Regions from separate parts of the Homo sapiens genome. Here all the other regions are reported to be linked to region 2. The links are microRNA targets in miRTarBase. Many come from high-throughput screens and were not tested one by one. Region 2 holds a microRNA gene; each other region holds the end of a gene's coding sequence.

Region 1 (7,287 bases), not on the chromosome of region 2:
TCATGTAACTACACCCTACAACTCAGCCCACCTGCTGGTATCCAGCCGCTAACAGTATACAATCCCACTCAAATACTCAAAATTTCTGGTCCCCCAAAAATACAAACCACTAATCTCAACACAATAAACTCAGGTTTCTGCATCAATCCACACAAACCCTGTATGATAATTGCAGGATGGACTCCATGCCCTAGCCCCCGCCCAGCCTCCAACTGTCCACAACTCAGGTAGCCAGAGCCCCCACTGGGGAAAAACTTTTAGTGGACACATAATATTTCCTCCTACACTGGGAAAACAAAACAGTAGGGCTAGCCAACTAACCTCAACCCATCCCTTCCAACCACTCACCGGGGCGGCCCTGTCTTCCTCTCTCTCCGCTTGGCGATCAGAAAACAAGATCCTAAAGCCCCTCTTTGCCAAAGACCTCCAATTTTGCCTTCCTAGCCAGGGCATATTCTTTCTCTGTGGCACTTCCACCTAGCTCTGCTTACCCACTAACTGGACAGGAACCTGCACGCTAGTCTTCCTTAGTCCAAAAATAGACATAGCCCCTGGGGATAGACCCTTACCCTTCCAAATTCAAACATTATCCCGCAGACGCTGAGCCATACAGCTTATACCCCTGCTAATAGGGTTAGGCATTATGGCAGCTGCAAGAACTAGAGTCGCAGGAATTGCAACCTCTACCTATTACTACAAATCCCTATCCAAGGACCTCTCTGATAACACTGATGACCTAGCATCCACTGTATCAACCCTCCAGGCCCAACTAGACTCCCTAGCCGCAGTAGGTCTTCAAAGCCGCAGGGGCCTCGATTTACTTACCGCAGAAAAAGGAGGTATCTGCGTCTTCCTAGATGAAGAATGCTGCTTCTATTTCAGTCAGGCCTGGTTCAAGATGCAGTTAAAAAATTAAAGGACCGGGCTCAAAAATCAGGGAAAACAGTTCTTCCCCCTGGCCCTCCTGGCCCCTATGGCCCTTCAGCTCCTGGGCCTCCTGGCTACTCCCACTCCTTGGACCTGTCATAATCATTCTCCTTCTAATCTTTGGGTCCTGCCTCTTATGTCTCTTTACCCAGTGTTTTCTTAATTTTTTATTTATTTTATTTTATTTTATTTTTTTGAGGCAGAGTCTCGCTCTGGCACCCAGGCTGGAGTGCAGTGGCGCAATCTCTGCCCACTGCAAGCTCCGCCTCCTGGGTTCACACCATTCTCCTGCCTCAGCCTCCCAGGTAGCTGGGACTACAGGTGCCCGCCACTATGTCTGGCTAATTTTTTGTATATTTAGTAGAGACGGGGCTTCACCGCGTTAGCCAGGATGGTCTCGATCTCCTGACCTCGTGATCCACCTGCCTCGGCCTCCCAAAGTGTTGGGATTACAGGCGTGAGCCACGGCGCCCGGTCTCTTTACCCAGTTTTTACAGAAGCGCATCCGAGCCTTCATCCACAGAACCATACAAGACATGATGCTACTCCAAGAATACCAACAATTTCAAAGCCAGAACCCAAACCAACCCCTACCTTCCAGCCTCTCCCCCTAACCACCGCTCCCTCTCAGCTAGAAGCAGCCTGATGAGAACAACGCCCCCTTTTCTATCAACTATTAAAAGCTGGAATGTTAGGGTCACCCCGACCAGACTGTTCTCCTCCTTTCGCAAAGGTCTTACAATACAGTCCTTTGTGACCTCCGCATAGCTCCCCCAGGGCTAAAGGCAAACCCCCCGCCACAACTGACCCTTCGAGAGTAACTGTTTGTCCAGAAGACTTCAGCTGAACTGGCAGACAGTTCCAAGATGCGGTCAGAACACCTGCTAACCAAAGCTGGCAAAACTATCTCCAGGACGCAGTCAAGACACCTGCACCCCCAACTCGGTTCACACACCCCGACCCAGTTCCTCGCCCTGTAAAGCCCTGCTGCAGTCTGTAAGTGGGGCTGCCTCCTCTGCCTGTCAAGGAGCAGCCTGGCAGGACGAATAAAAATTGCTTACCTGACTTTGAGCCTACTCATCCTTTCTCTCGGCTAACCTTACACAGAGGCCGTGCGGTGGAAGCATGCTTGGCTTGTTCAGGATCAGGGGGCCCAAGCAGCAGGAATAGAGTGAGGGGTGAAGGGCTGAGAAGGTGGGGAGGTACCCAAGTGTGCAGACTCATGGTGTAGAGCCTTACAAGCCACACAGACCTTTGGATTTTCTCCTGCATGGAGGGTAAGCCATCAGAGGGTTGTAAACAGAAGAGGGACACAGTCAGGTTTTTAAAGGCTCACTCTGGCTACCACGTGGTGCCTGGACTGTGGCAGGGGAAGAGTGGGAGACCAGGAGGCCAGAGATGGAGGCTTAGGGTGGTTGCAGTGGAGCTGTGACAAATGGTCAGATTCTGCCCGTGTTCTGAAGGTAGGGCCAGCCAACAGGAGTAGCAGTGGATTGGACATGGGGTGTGAGAGAGAAGGATGAGAGGGAGGGAGGGAAGGAGGGACGGAGGGACAGAGAAAGTCAGGCCAACTTGGCTTCAGAGCCTGAACAATCCAGCCACCAAGACCATTCCTCACTCCCTTTCCACTTCTGCTAGTTTGACAGGTCCAGCCAGTGTCCCTGGCTCTTCCCAGGGACACTGGAGACCAGGGTGGCCAAAGGGGATGCCAGCTTCGCAGTTCTCATTTGGTTTGACCTTTCAGGAGCACGCGAGTGGTCAGTGTGGCCGCACTGGTCCCACCCATCCTTCTGGTACTTTCTTTTTCCTTTGCTGCCACAGGGCTCATAGTGAAACCTGTGAGGAACAGCGATCCAAGAAGTTCACTTTTGTTTTCGTTAAATTGACCAACTCACAGCCAAGAAACAGTTTAGATCAATACACCAAACTGTTCAGGAGTGCCAGAGTGTACAGGCCCAGACCCAGGTGCTGAGGAGGTAAGGGTGAGCAAAACGAAGCCCCTGCCTGTAGGGCGCTTGCTGTCTAGTGTTTTGCTGAATGTAAGAGTGACACGTGTAGGTGTCCAGGAGGTATCTGTGCCCTGAACAGAGGCTTAATGGGTGGCGGGACAGGAGTGAGGCTGAACATAGAGACAAGGTCCAGAGCTGAGAGTGGCACTGGTGGGCTGGGAGCAGGGGCACCTCCCAGCAGAGCATCCAGGATGGGTAAGGCATGGGCCAAATGTAATGGGCAAAATCTTTGGACAGCTGGCTGCTGGGGCAGGTGTGGAACTGTGAGGTGGAGGAGTGAGGGGCCTGGGGCTGTGCTCTGAAGCACTGCAGAGGATCAGAGCCTTCTCACATCTTGGAGGTGCCCCTCTTGGTCTGTGGACCCTTGACTGGGAAGGGGCTCTGCCTGCACAGATCTTGTTCCTTGAGTGGCCTGGGTATGGGCTCCTGGACACAGAAGTGTGTCCGCGTGGGTGCTGTGGTGTGCCGGGGGAGGGGCCAGCCTACCTCTAGCTTCATTGCTAGAATGAAGTGCAATCTGCAAAGTCTAAATTTTTTTTCTTTTTTGAGATGGAGTCTCACTCCATTGCCCAGGCTTGGAGTGCAGTGGCGTGATCTCGGCTCACTGCAACCTCCACCTCCCGGGTTCAAGCAATTCTCTGCCCCAGCCTCCTGAATAGCTGGGATTACAGGCACCTGCCACCATGCCTGGCTAATTTTTGTATTTTTGGTAGAGACAGGGTTTCACCATCTTGGCCAGGCTGGTCTTGAACTCCTGACCTCATGATCCACCCGCTTCGGCCTCCCAAAGTGCTAGGATGACAGGCATGAACCACCGTGCCCGGCCCAAAGTCTAAATTTAAGCAAAGGAAGGAAGGAAAGAAAGGAAGGAAGGAAGCCCTTGGCTTCCTATTGAGGAGAGGGAGGGGGAGGGTGGAGCAGGAAGAGGCCTGGCTGGGCCTTCTCCTTCCCTGGCTGCCCTGGATGGGCACATGGGCAGTCTGTCTGGGGCAGCAGGCTCCCCTACCCCAGATGGAGTTCAGCAGAGAGGATCAATACCCTTCAGCTGCTGTGGTGCTGGGATGCCCCGCTGCCTCCTGCATGCAAGGTCAGAGGGTGAGCCAAGCCAAGCAGGGAGCTCTCACTTGGGCAGTGGGCAGATGCACAGGTCTCAAGAGACTGCTGGGCACTTCAGGTTCCCCTCCCCCGCCAAGACAGTGGTGCCAGGTGCCACCCGCTGGCTGCGGGGAGCAGGGAGGGGGCACACTCAGAGCTGCAGGAAGCCAGTTGGGAATCCTGCACCACTCAGCTGGGATGGAGAGGGATGGGGCTGGGTCGGGGCTGGAGAGGCCGAGATGTAGGCAGGGAAGGCAAGAAGGCAGGAGACGCAGGCCACAGTGGTTCCAGATCAGGAAGTTTTATTGCTGACATGCAGGAAGAGTCCCCATGTAGTACAAAAATATGTCTTTATACAAACTTTTTTGTGACTTTTTCCGTTTCTTTACAATAGGACTTCTCTCAGTGTGTGACACCCAGTGAGGGCTGACCCATCCTCCTCTCCTTTGCTTCACCAGGAATGTCATCAGACACATGGCTTGACCTTGGAAGGGCCCAGTCTGTCTGACAGGGCTTTGCAGACCCGGCGGCTATTGCTTTGAAAAGGAGGAGAAAGACCACGCACGGGCAGCAGCCTGGAGGGACCCGGTGGGCTGCTGAGAGGGGGCTCCGCTGCGACGGGCCCTGGCCCAGCTTCAGGCCCTCACAGGAGGACAGTCAAGGGCTGGGAGCCCTAGGCCGGACTGCATTTCCGCTCCCGCAGGAGACTTTCTATGAAATAAATATAGAAAAGAGGGCATCCCCCAGCCCCACAGCACAAGACCCTGGCCCTCAGCGCTGGACAGCTGAGACAGACGCAGGCTCGCTGCTCAGGGGGAGTAAGTGCTGGGCTCCAGTAGGCTCCCACAGGCCCACTGAGGCAGAGGCATGAGTCGCCCAAGTGCTGGATGGGGCATGGGGAGAAAGGGGCGTGGGCAGCCCTGCTACTGCTGGCAAGAGGTGGCCCCATTTTTTCCAGATGGGGAAACTGAGGCACAAGGAGGTTTGGGAACTTGCCCAAGGTCACTCACAGTGAGTCAGCTTTTTAGGGGGAGGAGAGCGGCTCACACTCTGGGAAACACAGTCACCTCCCCACTGGGGAGCAGGGCCAGGCAGGAGGGGCCTCAGGGCCCATGACTGCCTGGAGGGGACACTCAGCCTCTCTGAGGACATATGGGGGGTAGGCCTCTGGGGAAGGGTCTTTGCTTGGCATCAGGCAGGGCCAAGTCCAGTAAGGGCAAGGGGAGGGGGCATTCTGGTGAGAACAGCATTTCTGGCAAGACGGGCATCCACTTCAAAATCTCGGCTCAAAAGGGCAGCAGGGCTGTTCTCAAGCCAGGCAGGCAGGGTCCCCCAATCCCTACAATTCTCCTGAGTCCCTCACCACCATGGAGGACCCTTGCTAGGGTCTACCGGGAGAGTCACCACATCTATTATGAGGCAAGGGCACTGGGATATGTTCCCACCATCCCCTAAACACAAGAGTAGGCTAGGGGAGCGTGCAGGCAGCCCCCGCTCACGGCCAGGCCTGCAGCCCAACCCATGGGCCCCTTCGCACTGGGAGTCCACGTGAGCTCAGTACCACGGGGAAGGATAGAGAAGGGAACAGGTTAACGCGCGTGTACAGCACCTCAGAGAAGCCACTGAGACGGGAGAGAAAGAGCCAGGTCTAGAAAGGCCTCCCATCACCGGCAGCAGAGAGGGACTGGTGGGCTGAAAGGGGACAGGGACTGGCAGGAGGGGCTTCCCTGCCTGGGGGTGAGGAGGGAGCTCACGTGTGGGCTGTGGATTCCTTGCTGTCCAGCCAGGCTGGGGGCAGGGAGTGGCCATGGACTGAGCCACCTAGAGATGGGAGAGAAGTTGGTATGGTAAAAAAATAAATATATTTGAGTTCGGTTTAAGATGAGGTGAAGGTTTTCCAAAGCTTGGACTGAGGGGCCTGGATCAGAAAGAGAGGGACGGAAAGAGGCTGTGGCAGGGGCCTGGGAGAGCAGGGAGGAGGGGAAGCTCGCTCTGGGGCCTGCAGCGAGCTGCACTTTCAGCTTATTTGGACTGTGGGGAGCAGCGCCCCAGGTCAGTTGGTGGCCGCTGGGGAAGGCCCTGGAGTGGGGTGAGCAGGCTCCCTCCTCCCTCTTGCTCAGTCCAGAGACAGCATGGTTAAAGAGACAGAGGTAGATTAAAACATCGTGATTAAAAGCAGATTAGTTATCTAGGCTTCTCAGATTTAAAAACCAAACAATCGAGCAATCATCCCAAAAGGTAGCTTCGTGGTACCTCTGCTGACCCCACGTGTGACCTGGGCTGTCCCTGTCCCTGCCCTGTCCCTATTGTGGCCCGGGAGAGTCCAGCACTACAGGGCCCAGCCCTGACAGCCACGCCTTTGGCTGGGGCTGGAAGAAGTGGCAGCAGTGCTGGTGGCCCCGGCTGAGGCTGTTATTTCCGCAGGTAGCGCTGCGCCAGGATGGCCGTGTCCAAGGAGGTCATGGGCTGTGCGTCGTGGCCCAGCCGTCGCACCGGTGGTGCGCTGCCGAACTGCCGCTTGGGTACCCAGCTCCGGGCGTCATGGATGGAGCTCTTCTCCTCGGCCAGCAGCAGCTGCTGACGCATGTAGTTCTCAAACTCGTACTGGGAGCACTCCTCCGTCACCTTCGCCTTTGAGGCGGGGAGGGTGGGAAGGAGACAAAGATAAACCCAGATGAAGGCAGCGCAGCAGACAGGAGGGCAGGCAAGAGTGCTGGCAGCCTGGCTCCTGCAGTCACCCTTCCAGGCACCACACCCTCAGGCCTCAAGGCCGGGGGTGGGAGTGGCGCTGAGGGTGGGTCCCTGACCCCCTCCAGCCAACCTCAACTCCCCTTGCAGGCCGCCCTGCGGACCCGGGACTGACGCAGACTCATGCTTCCTAACTCACTGGCTGCGTGAGAGGTCACTTTACCTCAGAAGCCTTAGCTGTCTGGCCCCTCGCAAAGGTTCTCTGAGCCCTGAGGCGGCTAATGCACGTCAAGAGGTACGAGCAAGCCCTGGGCTGGGGGCGCAGCACCTGGAGGAGCCACATACGCAGGGCCCCATGCTGAGCTCCCTGGGATGGTCTAGGCAGATGGTAACAGAAGCTGAAGTGGTGTCCCCGTGCCAGTCACCACAGGAGACAGCAGGGCTTCCGGATGAGACTTGGGTTCAAGGCTTAGCTCCACTACTTCTAAGCTGTGTGGCTTTGGGAAAGTCCTCTCTAACCCTGTTTCCTCTTCTGTAACATGGGGCTAAGAACACAGGCCACGCAGGC
Region 2 (7,000 bases):
GAATACAAACCACCGGGCACGGTGGCTCACGCCTGTAATCCCAGCACTTTGGGAGGCAGAGGTGGGCGAATGACCTGAGGTCAGGAGTTCGAGACCAGCCTGGCCAACATGGAGAAACCCCATCTCTACTAAAAATACAAAATCAGCCGGGCGTGGTGGCACATGCTTGTAATCCCAGCTACTAAGAAGGCTGAGGCAGGAAAATGGTTTGAACCCAGGAGGCAGAGGTTGTGGTGAGGCGATATCGTGCCATTGCACTCCATCCTGGGCAACAAAGGTGAAATTCCGTCTCCAAAAAACGAAAAAAAAAAGAAAACAAACCGGCCGCAGTGGCTCATGCCTGTAATCCCAGCACTTTGGGAGACTGAAGTGGGAGGATCACTTGAGGCCGGGAGTTTAAGACAAGCCTGGTCAACATACTGAGACCCCATCTCTAAAAAAAAATACAAAAATCAGCCAGGTATGATGGCACACATGCCTGTAATCTCAACTACTCAGGAGGCTGAGGCAGGAGAATCGCTTGAACCTGGGAGGCAGAGGTTGCAGTGAGCCAAGATTGTACCACTGCACTCCAGCCGGGGTGACAGAACGAGACTGTCTCAAAAAAAAAAAAAATACAAAAATGAGCTGGGCATGGTGGTGTGCACCTGTAGTTCCAGCTACTTGGGAGGCTGAGGTGGGAAGATCACTTGAGCCCAGGAGGTTAAGGCTGCAGTGAGCTATGATCACAGCACTGCACTCCTGCCTGGGGACAGAGTGAGATCCTGTCTCTTAGAAAAAAAAAAAGAAGAAGAAGAAAGAAAGAAAACAGAAATAGCTGGGCGCGGTGGCTCAAGTCTGTAATCCCAGCACTTTGGGAGGCCGAGGCAGGCAGATCACCTGAGGTCGGGAGTTCGAGACCAGCCTGACCAACATGGAGAAACTCCGTCTCTACTAAAAATACAAAATTAGCCGGGCATGGTGGTGGTGCATGCCTGTAATCCCAGCTACTGGGGAGCCTGAGACAGGAGAATCACTTGAACCTGGGAGGTGGAGGTTGCGGTGAGCCGAGATCATGCCATTGCCCTCCAGCCTGGGAAACGAGAGCAAAACTCTGTCTCAAAAAAAAAAAAAAAAAGAAAGAAGAAAATAGAAATAACTCAGGTCTAAGACCTCCTCCTAGTCACAACCAGTTTTCTGCGTTCATCTTGGCTTGAGTGATCTATAGTCTGTGTCTATCCGCCACCTAAGTGCTTGCATCTCGTACGTAAGCCACACCTCAAAGACGGCCAAGGAGAAGGGGTGGGCCAGCCTCTTTTCATCCTCCAAGATGGTCTTCCGGTTGCCCCCGTTGACATCGATGCTTGAGATGGAGTGAAGTTTGGAGTCAACCCAGTAGAGGCGGCCACTGAGGAGATCTAGACACACAAGTGGATAAGGAGAGGTCACGTGCTGATGCCAGTCCCAGAGGGTCCTGAGGGCCTGGCCACGCTGCTCCGGGCAGGAAGACCCCCTGCCAGGGACCTAGCAGAAAAGCACCTGGAGAGGCAGCTCCAACCACATGTGAGCCTGAACCCCTCCCCTGTGACGCCCTCTCCAATGGGCAGGTAGGGGAGTTGCAGGTCAGAAAAACTTCAAGGAGGCTGGGTACGGTGGCCCACGCCTGTAATCCCAGCAGTTTGGAAGGCTGAGGCGGGAGGATCGCTTGCACCCTGAGTTTGAGACCAGCCAGGCCAACATAACAAGACTTTGTCTCTTCCCAAAAATAAAATAAAATTAGTCTGCCGTGGTGGCACGTGTCTGTAATCTCAGCTACTCAGGAGGGTGAGGCAGGAGGATCACTTGAGCCTGGGAGGTGGAGGCTGCAGTGAGCTACGATTGCGCCAGTGCACTCCAGCCTGGGTGACAGACCAAGACCTCATCTCAAAAAAAGAAAAAACAAAGAAAAGAAAGAGGGAAACCTTCAGGGAGCAGCTTGGGCTTGTCCCAGAGCCACCTGGCAACCCCCGTCTGTCCTCCAGCCTGTGCCCGGCCCTGGCTGGGACGGCTGTCCTGCGAACATACCTAGGGTGATGCCATTGGGCCACTGAATGTTTTCAGTCACCAGCGAGTAGATGTCCACACCATTCAGGCCCCCTTTCTTGATCTTGGCGGGAGTTCCCCAGTCAGTCCAGTACATGAAGCTGGTGGGAGGACAGAGAATAGCTGTGAGGCTGGAGGGCGGGGGAGGATCCCAGCCAATGCGTGCAACGAATTCTGGAAGAAACAGCCAGGCTCAGGCTTGGGAAATAGTCCTGCTGGGAACCCCAAACTCCAAATGTGGCTTGTTTGGGTTTTTTTTTTTTTTTTTTGAGACAGAGTCTGTCTCTGTTGCCCAGGCTGGAGTGCAGTGGCACGATCTTGGCTTGCTGCAACCTCCACCTTCCAGGCTCAAGCGATTCTCCTGCCTCAGCCTCTGGTGTAGCTGGGATTACAGGCGCCCACCACCACGCCTGGCTACATTTTTGTATTTTTAGTAGAGACGGGGTTTCACCATGCTGGCCAGGCCCGGGAGGCTGAAATCAAGAGGATTGCTTGAGCCCAGGAAGTTGAGGCTACAGTGAGCTATGATCACACCACTGCACTCCAGCCTGGGTGGCAGACTGAGACGCCATCTCGAAAGAAAAAGGAAGAAACACAAGAACACAAGCCATGCGCAATGGCTCGCACGTGTAATCCCAGCACTTTGGGAGACCAAGGCAGGAGGATTGCTTGAGGCTAGGAGGTCAAGACCAGCCTGGGCAACATAGTGAGACCTCATCTCTACTAAAAATAAAATAAATTAGCTGGGCACAGTGGTGTTCACCTGTAGTTCCAGCTACTTGGGAGGCTGAAGTGGGAGAATCAACTGAGCCCAAGAGTTTGAGGCTGCAGTGAACTCTGATTGCGCCACTGCACTCCAGACTCAGTGACAGAGCGACACCCTGTCTCAAAACAAACAAATATGAGACCAGAACACACGCACACAACACACACATTTGTATCTGAGTGGAGACAGTCTGAGAGTCTCTTTCCCTCTGGCCTGGCAGTTATGTGGCCAAACACACTGGGCCACATGTACCCCACCCATTGTTCTGTGGCAACAGCGAGCATTGTCTTGTTTAAAAGAGATCCAGGGTTGGGTTGGGCACAGTGGCTCATGCCTGTAATCCCCGCTGTTTGGGAGGCTGAGGCAGGCAGATTACTTGAGGCTAAGGGTTCGAGACCAGCCTAGCCAACATGGTGAAACCCAGTCTCTACTAAAAATACAAAAAATTAGTCAGGCATGGTGGTACATGCTTGTAATCCTAATTAGTTGGGAGGTTGAGGCAGGAGAATCACTTGAACCTGGGAGGCGGAGGCTGCAGTGAGCCGAGATCACGCCACTGCAATCTAGCCTGGGCGACAGAGCGAGACTCCGTCTCAAAAAATAAAAAATAAAAAGGGGGCCGGGCGTGGTGGCTCACGCTTGTAATCCAAGCACTTAGGGAGGCCGAGGCGGGTGGATCACAGGGTCAGGAGATTTAGACCATCCTGGCTAACGCGGTGAAACCCCGTCTCTAATAAAAATGCAAAAAATTAACCGGGCGTGGTGGCGGGTGCCTGTAGTCCCAGCTACTCGGGAGGCTGAGGCAGGAGAATGGCGTGAACCTGTGAGGCGGAGCTTGCAGTGAGCCGTGATCGCACCACTGCACTACAGTCTGGGCGACAGAGCGAGATTCCATCTCAAATAAATAAATAAATAAAAATAAAAAGGGACGCTGGCCATAGCGGGCCCACCTTCACCCGCAGGCATCTGATGATGCTCTCTTCCCTGCTTTTCCCTTCCAGACACCAAGTGTGCCTTCTCCAGTGTTCTCTGCTGGAAACCCAACATTCACCTCCTGATTGTAGCTGCAAGGACAGTGTGCGTCCCGGGTTGTCAGCACCACACTGAAACTGTGAAATGCCACCTCTCACGTGCTTAGGTAGCAGATGTCACCTGACAGGTACAGAGTACACCGGGCAGGTGGCAGGGGCGATGCTTCCTGCCAGGGGACACAGGTCACAGTGTCTTGACCCAGGAGCTGCTGAGTCAGCCATGGGCTTGGAAGATACCATCCTGTTGTCTAGCCACTAACCAGTTTTTTGTTTAGTTTTTTTTTTTTTTTTTGAGACGGAGTCTCACTCTGTCACCCAGGCTGGAGTGCAGTGGGGCTGTCTTGGCTCACTGCAACCTCCATCTCCCAGGTTCAAGTGATTCTCCTGCCTCAGCCTCCCGAGCAGCTGGGATTACAGGTGCCCACCACCACACCCGGCTAATTTTTGTATTTTTAGTAGAGACGAGGTTTCACCATGTTGGTCAGGCTGGTCTTGATGATCCACCCACCTTGGCCTCCCAAAGTGCTGGGATTACAGGTGCTTTGAGCCACCATGCCCAGCCCACTAACCAGTTCCTGAAGCTCCTTCCTGCTCCCTCCATTCCCTCTGCAGCCCTCAGCGTCGTGGATACGCACCCATGAACAGGATCCACCACGATGGCCCTTGGCTTGGAGCCGTTCTCCCTGAATAACGTTTTCCTCTTCACGCCCTTGGTATCCGCAACAGAGACAGTGCCCAGGACAGAGTCGGTCCAGTAGATGTTGCTGTGGATCCAGTCCACAGCCAGCCCGTCGGGGGCCTGGATGTCTCTGCTGATGACGGTGTCATAGGAAGAGACGCCGTGGGCTCTGTCAAGCTGGGTGCTGAGGCAGGAGGAGAGAAGGGCATCAGCGCCAGGAGCCCTCATCTCACCTGCGGGCCAAGGCTGCAGGCAGGGGCGACGCTCACCTGCAGATCATTCTCTGGGACAGGTCAGACCAGTAGATTCTATTGCTGGCCACCTCCGTGTCCAGAGCGACCACGTTCCTCAGGTTGGGGATGAGGCTGGTGTACTCGCTCCGGTCCAGCGTCATCTTCCTGACCTCGTGCCGGTTGGTGAAGAAGAGGTAGGCGATGGAGCCTGGGGGTCCGGGGAGCGAGGTCAGGGGGTCAGAGGGGACCCGTCGATGGAACCAAGAGTGCCTCCCCATCCCCTTGTGTCATCCTGCAGGGTGCGGCTGAGCCAGAGGAGGCACCCAGAAAAAGAGGGTGGAAAAGACCTCCCAACGGGAACAGGCACAGTGGCGCCCACCTGTAATCCCAGCACTTTGGGAGGCTGAGGGAGGAGGATCACTTGAGGCTAGGAGCATAAGGCTAGCCTGGGCAAGACAATGAGACCTTATTGCCACAAAAAAAAAAAAAAAAAAAAAAGCCAGGCACGGTGGCTCAAGCCTGTAATCCCAGCACTTTGGGAGGCTGAGGCGGGAGAATCGAGACCAGCCTCACCAACATGGTGAAACCCTGTCTCTACTAAACATACAAAAACTAGCCAGGTTTGGTAGCCGGAACCTGTAATCCCAGCTACTCAGAAGGGTGAGGCAGGAGAATTGCTGGAACCTGGGAGGTGGAGGTTTCAGTAAGCCAAGATCGCACCACCGCACTCCAGCCTGGGTGACAGAATGAGACTCTGTCTCAAAAAAAAAAAAAAAAAAATTAACCAGGCATGGTGGCACATGCCAGTACTCCCAGCTCCTCCAGAGGCTTAGGCGGGACGATCACGTGAACCCAGGAGGTCAAGGCTGCAGCGAGCTATGATGGAGGCTGCACTGCACTACAGGCTGGAAGATAGAGCAGCACCCTGTCTCTAAAAAATAATAATAGCCAGGTGTGGTGTCTGTAATCCCAGCACTTTGGGAGGCCAAGGCAGGAGGATCACTTGGGTTCAGGAGTTCAAGACTAGCCTGGCCAACATGGTGAAACCCTGTTTTTACTAAAAATATGAAAATTAGCGGCTGGGCGCAGTGGCTCACGCCTGTAATCCGAGCACTTTGGAAGGCCGAGGTGGGCGGATCACGAAGTCAGGAGATCGAGACCATCCTGGCTAACACAGTGAAACCCCGTCTCTACTAAAAATACAAAAAAATTGGCCTGGTGCAGTGGCGGGCTCCTGTAGTCCCAGCTACTGGGGAGGCTGAGGCAGGAGAATGGCGTGAACCCGGGAGGCGGAGCTTGCAGTGAGCCGAGATCCTGCCACTGCACTCCAGCCTGGGCAACAGAGCGAGACTCCGTCTCGAAAAAAAAAAAAAAAGAAAAAAGAAAATTAGCCAGGCATAGTGGCATGCACCTGAGGTCCCAGCTACTCCGGAGGCTGAGGTGGGAGGATCAACCAATCCTCCTGCCCTCAAGCAATCCTCCCGCCTCAGCCTTCTGAGTAGCTGGGACCACAGGTGTGTGGCACCATGCCCAGCTAATTTTTTTTCTTTAACCCCTTGAAGTCACTCCCCAGGTTGTCCCTGAAAGGAAAGCCGGTTCCTGTTCCACCAGTAGGGCTGAGGGTTCCGTTAACTGGATATTCCCAAAAACTAGGACATATGCAGGCATCCCCCTGGCAAGCCCAAGTCCTAACAGGGCGGCAGACTCCCCTGCCAGAGCCCTCAGGAGCAAACAGCCTCCCGGTCAGGGGATATGAGTCTGTGCAAAGTTCAGAGGATGAAACTCCCCCACCACTGCTGCCTGCAAGGGGTGAGGCCGCCCCCACCCGCCGCCTTCCCGTGCTCACCCACAGCCTTGCAGGCCTTCGTGTGGGGGTCCAGCTGGAAGCCTTCCTCACACTGGCACTTGTAGCCACCCTCCAGGTTCACGCAGAGCTGGCTGCAGGTGTCGGGATCCTGACACTCATCGATATCTGGAAGAGAGAGAAAGAGGCTTGGTGGGGAGGCTCTTCCCCAATGGCTAGAGACGGAGCGATGGGGCCCAGGCCAAAACCCACACCTTCGAAGGCAGCCAGGAGACAGCCCAGCCTCTCGGGAGATGTAATCAAGGAAACAGCCAGGTGTCATCCCCAGTCATCACCTGACCTCATCATTCACCACGGGAACCCAACCAAGAGTGTGAAGCTGTGTCAGCTGAAATTTCTTTTCTTTTTTTTCTTTTCTTTTCTTTT
Region 3 (7,243 bases), not on the chromosome of region 2:
AACTCCAGAATTAGCTCAAGAATTTGACACTTCCACAAGTTTCCAATGAATCTTCTAGGAGATCCTTTTGATAGCTTACCTTTCTCTTTAGACACAATCTACTTTTGATGCAGAATACTAAAAGGTGGGTGGCTAATGCTATATAGGAGAAATTGGTAGGATTTACAAATTCCTCCCACGTTCATAGTACTCTTCCTATCCCATAAACCTTTCATTTACATAGCTAAAAAATTCAGAACAATGGCTATGAAGAACCCAGAGGGCCCATGGCTAATCTGTTCTAGTAGTATTCAGAATATATGCCAATAAATTTGGAATAGCCTCCAAGACATATAAACCAATCCTTTCTAGAACTCCATATATATTTTCTCATTCAAGTAACTTCATCTCCTAAACAGCCCAGAGGAAGAAAATAAAGTCACATGGGTTTCCTCAAGGGAAGGGCCCATGTCAAATAACCTATATGAATGACTATATGATTAGAGCTTTCACAATTGGTAATGGAGCTGATGCGTGATGGTAAGTTGCTGGATCAAAAAAGATGAAGGGAAAACAGATAACAGCAAAATAGGCAACTTACATAGGATTCCGTAAGAGCAGTCAGGTCTGAACGAATCTTCCTTGCTAGCCAGATAGAGCGGCTACAGAGGTCCCGACGGTGAGGGGTCAGCGGTGAATGCTCTGTGAAAGCCATCCCTTAACTCAACTGTCCCAGGAAACAAGTCAGCTGGGTTTACTTCTGTCTATACTGGTCCAAATAAGAGATGTGACTCTCAAAGACTAAACCCACTGGGCATTCTCTACTAATGGGATTGTGCACCCCACCCCCACGCCCTGCCTGACTCAGAGGAGGTAGCAAATTCCTGGCTGTGGATTTTTGTGCCTGTGGAATCAAAGGGCCCTTTTTAATCAGATTTTTTTTCCCCTGCAGCGTCTGCCTCCATCTCTCTCCTCCACTCAGTACTTAGCACACTTGTTTCTATGTCATTGTTTTGCTTTTGCACTTAGCAACAAGGTCACTATCATACCAATCCTCATGGCACCCCTGCCTAATGTAATCTATCTCACACACTTAGAATTAGTTCATTTTATTATCATTCTCCCTTATGCTTCCCATGTCTTTTTTCTCATAGGCTGGCGAAATGTTCATTCAATAAAATTGTTATTGACACAGCTGCCATTTATTAAGTATCTACCATGGGTCAGTCAGTAAGCTAAATACTTTAAAGCAATTCCATTTGATCTTCAGAATATTTCTGAGGTAAATGTTATTTCTCCATATAAGAAACTGAAACTTCAAGAAATAACATGCACAAAATCAAGTAACGAGGCTTGAATTTAAATAGAAGTCTGATTCTATAGTTGTCTCTCCCACTGACTTTCCAATTTCATTTTCTGTTTAGGTAGTTCACATCTTGTTCAAGAAACAAAGGGTGTGTGAAGTCCTTTAAAAACAGGATTTTTTTCACTCCTAACCTTACGTACTTTTTAAAGGTAATTTAATTTATACTTAAAAATCAAGCAAGGAAGCATCTCTAATTTCAATCACGGTGCCTTCCTGGTAGCTACATAGGAGGAGGAAGGTACTGTTTAGGCCTGTTCTCTTCCAAAGAACAGGAAACACCCAACGCTAACTTGGTAACATTTCTAAAGCAGTCTCACTCAAGTGACAACATGCTTTCCTTTTTTCTCCCCTACCCAGTCATACCACATGCTTCTTAAAATAAGAGAATGAGCTGGGCTTTGAAATGACAGTATAAAAGTTAAAAGGTACTTGGAGGGTTGTCATTCTATTGCATTTAACTTAGAAAATGATGCTTATTGGGTAAGGGCTAAATGAAATAATTAGCTTTCATTATTTATATCATAGATATTGCCAATAAGCTGAAACACATACCATCTTAGAAGCAAATTTATAAAAGTAAACAATAAATGGGAGATGTAACAGAGCAGCCTGGGCAGCTATCACAGCATGGCTTTTGGAAGGCAGAAGGATTATAGTTTTTTCTTTTTTAAAATAAAAATCAGTACTTGATATAAACATTCAATTTTGAGAAGAAGTATTAATATTAAATGCTATCAAGGTTTTGTCATTATCAGGGTAAAATTAACCTCACATAATCCTTAATTTTCCATCTACTAGGTTAATTAACATATGGCCAGTTTTCCTAGGAGGCAGTTGTCAAAACATCAAGATTTCCAAGTTTGCTGAATAACAGAATCATGTCATTTCAGCATTAGAAATCAAGAACAGTCAAAAATTAACCACCTGATTCTCAACAAAAGCAAACAATAGTATGCCCCACATAACACCTGTTCTGAGGGCATTTGGTTTGCTTAGCAGCATCACATGTTTCACCCCTAGGATAACTGTAACTCAGTACAACCAAGGAAGACAAGTTGCTTCCATGAAGACAACTTTTATTTTTCTTCTTTACATATTTATTTTTAATATGCCTTACCTAGAATAAGAGAAAACAAAGATTTGAAAAGCAAAGTATCCCTTTTATTATAATTTCTTTTTACATAACCTTTTCAACCTATATTCAGGTAACTACCTGTCTCTCCCATGAAAGGAGAAGGGTCCTGCACATTACAACAGGCAAAAAAGGCTTTTAAGAAATAAAATATTTTAAATTGATCCATTACATTTGTTCAATTTTCTTGAGTACATTGGAAAGTGGGAAAAACACAAAAGGAGAAAAAAATGGTATTTCAAACAACCAGACTATAATAATCTTAGTTAGATTGGTAGTACACTCATTATACTTTTTCCCCAAACAGGTACAAAGGAGGTTCAAGTGCTCTATGTGGATGCTAGTCTATACCTCGATATTTTTATTTTACTCCCAGTACTCCCACGGCCATGGCCAGTGTTTGCCTAAATTCTCTGAAGCATATCAAGGAGTCTCAGTTACGCAAAACAACCTTGGGCAACCACAAAGAAGAGGGATGCACATCTCCCAGAAATATTAAATAGCTGTATCTCAACTACAGTTTCAGAATTTAGAACCACCAATTCAAGATGGAAATATGCAGTGGGAAGAGTTATTAAAAAGGTAACAGAATTTGACTAAGAGCATGAAATGTAGAACTTTAAGATTAAAAGAGCTCCCTGGAAGGACAATGAGGCATATGGAGCAGAAGGGAAAGCAGGGAAACGGCTGAGATAGTTTAATTACACCAACTCTACTATGCAGCATCCCTTTATCAAAAGGAAAAATATAAAGTCTATAAAAAATATTTTAGTATTGCAAACTGCTGCAATAATTTATTGTAGGCAAATGGTAGCTATAAAGAGGGTCCTTGACCCCTAAAAGAAAAGAAAAAGTACAGCAAGTTTCTAATTAGTAGAACTAACTAGTTGTTTTTTTGTTGGGAGAGCGGTATAGGAAAGGAGAATACATTTTCTCCCATCTCAGAAAGATTTTTAAAAATGCAGTTTGCTTTTGTGTAGGTGGCTAAAATATCTGATGACTAACCACTGCAAATGAAATTTACGGAGACAAAGGATAAGTGTGACAAAAAAGCTAAGTGTGGAATATAGATGCTAGTTAGTCAAAAAGTGTAAAAGGGACCTGAGAGGAGGACAACTTTTTTGTAGATTCATCTAATCAATCTTGTATTTTCAAATCTAGTCAATATACCAAAGTCGACTCCAAACCATGTTGGCAGGAAAGCATATTCTACATCCCTTCTATCTTTATTCCATTTTCTATCCCCATATTATGGAGAAATGGCAAATCTGCAACACTCTGAAAAGAAACAATAGCGCATTTGAGACTGGTGATTGTAGGTGTCTCACTCTCTGTTCCCTGGCATCCCAAATGCTGACACTAGTTGGTATAAAGTAAGCCTCTTTCAGAAATGACATTTTGTTACTCCTCTTTTTGGGAAAAAAGAATTCTTTGAAAAAATTGATAAGCCATGTTTGTGAAACACAAACTGTTCTTTTTTTTTTTTCCAGCAAAACGTCATTCTTTCCAAGAGCCATCATGCATTTCTGACAATAAACAATGAATAGGGTAAGCCTTCGATTCTAGCTTCTGAGGCACACAGGATAGGAATTACTCTTTACCTGAAGATGAGCCAAAATAGGATTTGGGGCTTCTGGCGGTATGACCTTGTACAAAAACACTACCTTTTCTCTCCAGTGAACAGCAATAAGCAATCTATTCCCCAACACAACCTCTATCCCAAGGAAATTGTGATGCCCAGAATTTTAGGTGAAAGCCAAAGCAATTATTATATAGGATTATTAACTTTGGCTATTGAAGTTTTTCCTCTTCAGAAGTGTTACTAAAGGGGAAACAGAGCAGTTTTCTTTGACTTAAAATTTTAGGACTCATAGACTTTGTTCCTTCACTAACAGCAGTGTCCTTCACTAACAGGGAGCTGGAATGAACTGATAAAGCAAAGCAAGAAACAAAAAGCAAGGAGCCAGAGATGGGCCCCAAGGGAAATGTAAGGAAATGGTAGGGACAAAAAAAAAGGAAAAGAAACAAATTCACAAGAAACAATCATCTATCTGTAATTTAGATTCTGAACAACCCTCCTCACCCTCTCAAAATTCTTAAGTTTCAACACTGTAAAAATCTCAAAGAGCATACTAGTTACCATGAACCTAACATTCTTCCCTAAAAAGGCTTCCAAAAAAGCACTAGGCTATTGTAGTGATTTTGTTAGTGCTGAGGACCAGCTTTCTTTAAAAGCCACTGGAGAGCTATGATTTCAGAGGCTGGCTGTGCTTCTTCAACCCTATGTCTTGCCTTCAAAGTACCTGTTATGGAAGGGATCCCATGTCAAAATAATCTAATCTCTCTCTCCCAGCCCCACAAAATATAGCAACAAAGACTCCAAAAAAAAAAAATCAGACTTCCTGTTAATAAATAAGGAATCTCAGGTTCCACAACACAAAAACACACATGTTCAAAGTGCAAATTTCTGCCATTAGCCTGGGACTTTTCTCATCGTCTCACTGATACAGAGCCCTGTCTTACAGTCAAAGAGACTGTAGAGGGCAGCCCCCTCCCTATTGGGAGCCTGCTTCCAAGCAAGTGAGCACCATTGAGAGCCATATGGAGGGTTGGGAGGGGGACTGAGATGCTGGGATCAAAGAAGGGGGAGGTGGTCCCCATATATCCTTCCTTTCTGAAACCCAGGGGGGAATAAAGGAAGAGGGGATGAGAGATGTGTGCTGTTTTAACAGCTCACCCTGCTAAGGGGCCCTAAAGTGCCAAGTCAAGCTGCCAGCCTCCAGAGATTAGAATTCTATGGTATTTGAAGATAAGTGTGCCGCAGGGGGTAGGAGCCAGAACCATAGGGCAGCAGTAGAGGAGGAGAAGGGATTTAGAAGACAGTAATATATGATTAAAAGTTAAAAGCTGATCCAGAGCACATCAGAGTTACAGGTTGGAAAGGGGGATCTGCCGATGAGCAGGAAGTCTGCTGATGGCTGGAACCGAGTATGAGAATAACCCTCACTTTAAGAGCTGCTGCTGCTTCTTTTTTGTCTACCTTTCTGGTAAAGACAACATCAATTTTATAAGGGGAGCAACAGAGGGAGAACAGGGGATGGGGAGGTGGAGGGTGTATGTATGTGTGTGCTGTGATCCACAATGGAAAGAGCAGGCCCTTCAGTTATTTCACTAGATTTTAAATGCTTTAGATTTTTTTTTTGTCCTTTTTAACTTTTAAATACAAAGTCTGAGCTGTCCCATGCCCCAAGTCTTCCTGTCCACTAAGGTCCGGCAGAGTCTGAATCTTCAATCAGAACCTCTGTGGTAGCACCGAGTATATCTGAGTTCATAACCAGCCCTTCAGTGCCTCCACTGCTGCCGCTTCCCACAAAGATCTTCCCATCAGCCATCAGGCTCACCCGTTCCGTCCCACTGCAGTATGACTTTGACATCCCTTCAGCTTCTAACAGTAGGCACTCTCCAGAGGTTGAGTTTCCCAAGGGCTCAGGAAGAAGAGGAAGACCCTGACCATCTGAAGGCTGCGTCAGGGACTCTGGGTTAGTGCCCAAGATATCTGTGCTGGTGATGAGGGCGCCTGCATTGGCAGCCAGAGCTTCTGCAATCAGCACCTCAGGGTGGCTTTTTGCCTTGTGTGCCACTACGCTGTCCTTCTTCTCAAATTTTTTGCCACAGATATTGCAAGAAAACTGGTAGAAGGAGTCTGCATCATGTTTCTTCATGTGCCAATTAAGAGATGCCTTTTGTCGACAAGTAAATCCACAGATCTCACATCTAAGGAGAGGAGAAAAGGAAATGGCTGATCCAACAGAGAAATAAAGAGTGCTCTTATTCAGGATCAGGGTTAGAGTTTAGAGCATATATATACATACACACACACACACACACACACACACACAATAATCAGTAACATACTTCTTTTGAAGGATTGGGAAATGTTACTAGATGGAAAACTAATCTGATCTTCTTCTGTTTGCCTGAAAAACAGAGGGAAACTAAGAAAAAGGCTACTAACTAATGCCCCCAATCAATATCCACTCATTTATTTGATGAAAGTAAACAGCAGTGGCAACTAATATGTTTGTAAAGCGGCAAACCTTCAAGTAGGGCATATATCCTTCTCACCCAGATGTTCACCAGTAAATAATACTCACTGTAATGGCTTCTCGCCAGTGTGAATCATCCGGTGCACTGCCAGATTGTGGGAACTCTTGAAGGCCCGAGCACAATATTCACAGATATAATCCCTTTGATCTATGAAGAAAATACTGTGGTTAGTGTTCTATTTAGATACCCTGTAAATATTTTCCCTTACAGTAAGTAAGCAGATGATGGGGCAGGCAATTTAGAGTAAAAGCAATGCTGTTTTCAATGTATAAACACTTTGGGTAAACAAAATTTAAAAAAGAAAAGTATTGCTTTAAAAAAAATCCAACATTCAGTAGCATAAGGACCTGTTTAAAAAAAAACAAAAACAAACAGAAAAACTAGATAAAAATATAAGAAATGGAATCCTAATCTCAATTTTACCACTAATCCAGGTCTTGGATACCAAGTGGTTAGCAAGTAAACAACTATATTTTCCATATATTTTACTCCTTTAAGGAGTAAACAATTTTTTTCACAGACAATGAAAACTGAATGATTACACAGAAAGAATCTGGCATTCAAACAAAACAAAAACAAAAAACAAGAACTTGGCACTGTATAGAAGAAAACTGATCTAAAGGTAATCATACCCTGTTTCAGGTTTAAAAAATGTTACT

Evidence for each region. The annotated mature microRNA hsa-miR-6886-5p reads CCCGCAGGUGAGAUGAGGGCU and lies in region 2 at 4,757-4,777, opposite strand. An mRNA with a match to its seed (bases 2 to 7 or 8) in the 3' UTR can be bound and repressed. Matches are read on the target gene's strand: a 7mer-m8 pairs with bases 2 to 8, a 7mer-A1 pairs with bases 2 to 7 and ends in A, and an 8mer does both.
Region 1: miRTarBase lists STK40 as a target of hsa-miR-6886-5p. Seed matches in the 3' UTR shown: 7mer-m8 at 4,729-4,735.
Region 3: the mRNA of ZFP91 is a reported target of hsa-miR-6886-5p. Seed matches in the 3' UTR shown: 7mer-m8 at 5,296-5,302.

Annotation. Positions count from the first base shown.
Region 1 is chr1:36,335,312-36,342,598 of GRCh38, forward strand. STK40 (serine/threonine kinase 40) reads right to left here. Exons shown (of 11, transcript NM_001282547.2): 11 at 4,317-6,662. The coding sequence ends at 6,444. Among named protein-coding and RNA genes, the nearest start is that of EVA1B, 15 kb to the left of the region's middle.
Region 2 is chr19:11,111,256-11,118,255 of GRCh38, reverse strand. MIR6886 (microRNA 6886) reads right to left here and starts at 4,782; the gene lies at 4,722-4,782. It overlaps LDLR (low density lipoprotein receptor), which reads right to left. Exons shown (of 18, transcript NM_000527.5): 8 at 6,617-6,742; 9 at 4,807-4,978; 10 at 4,494-4,721; 11 at 2,044-2,162; 12 at 1,258-1,397.
Region 3 is chr11:58,616,204-58,623,446 of GRCh38, reverse strand. ZFP91 (ZFP91 zinc finger protein, atypical E3 ubiquitin ligase) reads right to left here. Exons shown (of 11, transcript NM_053023.5): 10 at 6,632-6,731; 11 at 1,897-6,251. The coding sequence ends at 5,741. It overlaps CNTF (ciliary neurotrophic factor), which reads right to left and starts at 782. Exons shown (of 2, transcript NM_000614.4): 1 at 581-782. The coding sequence starts at 694. ZFP91-CNTF (ZFP91-CNTF readthrough (NMD candidate)) reads right to left here. Exons shown (of 13, transcript NR_024091.1): 10 at 6,632-6,731; 11 at 5,879-6,251; 12 at 581-681.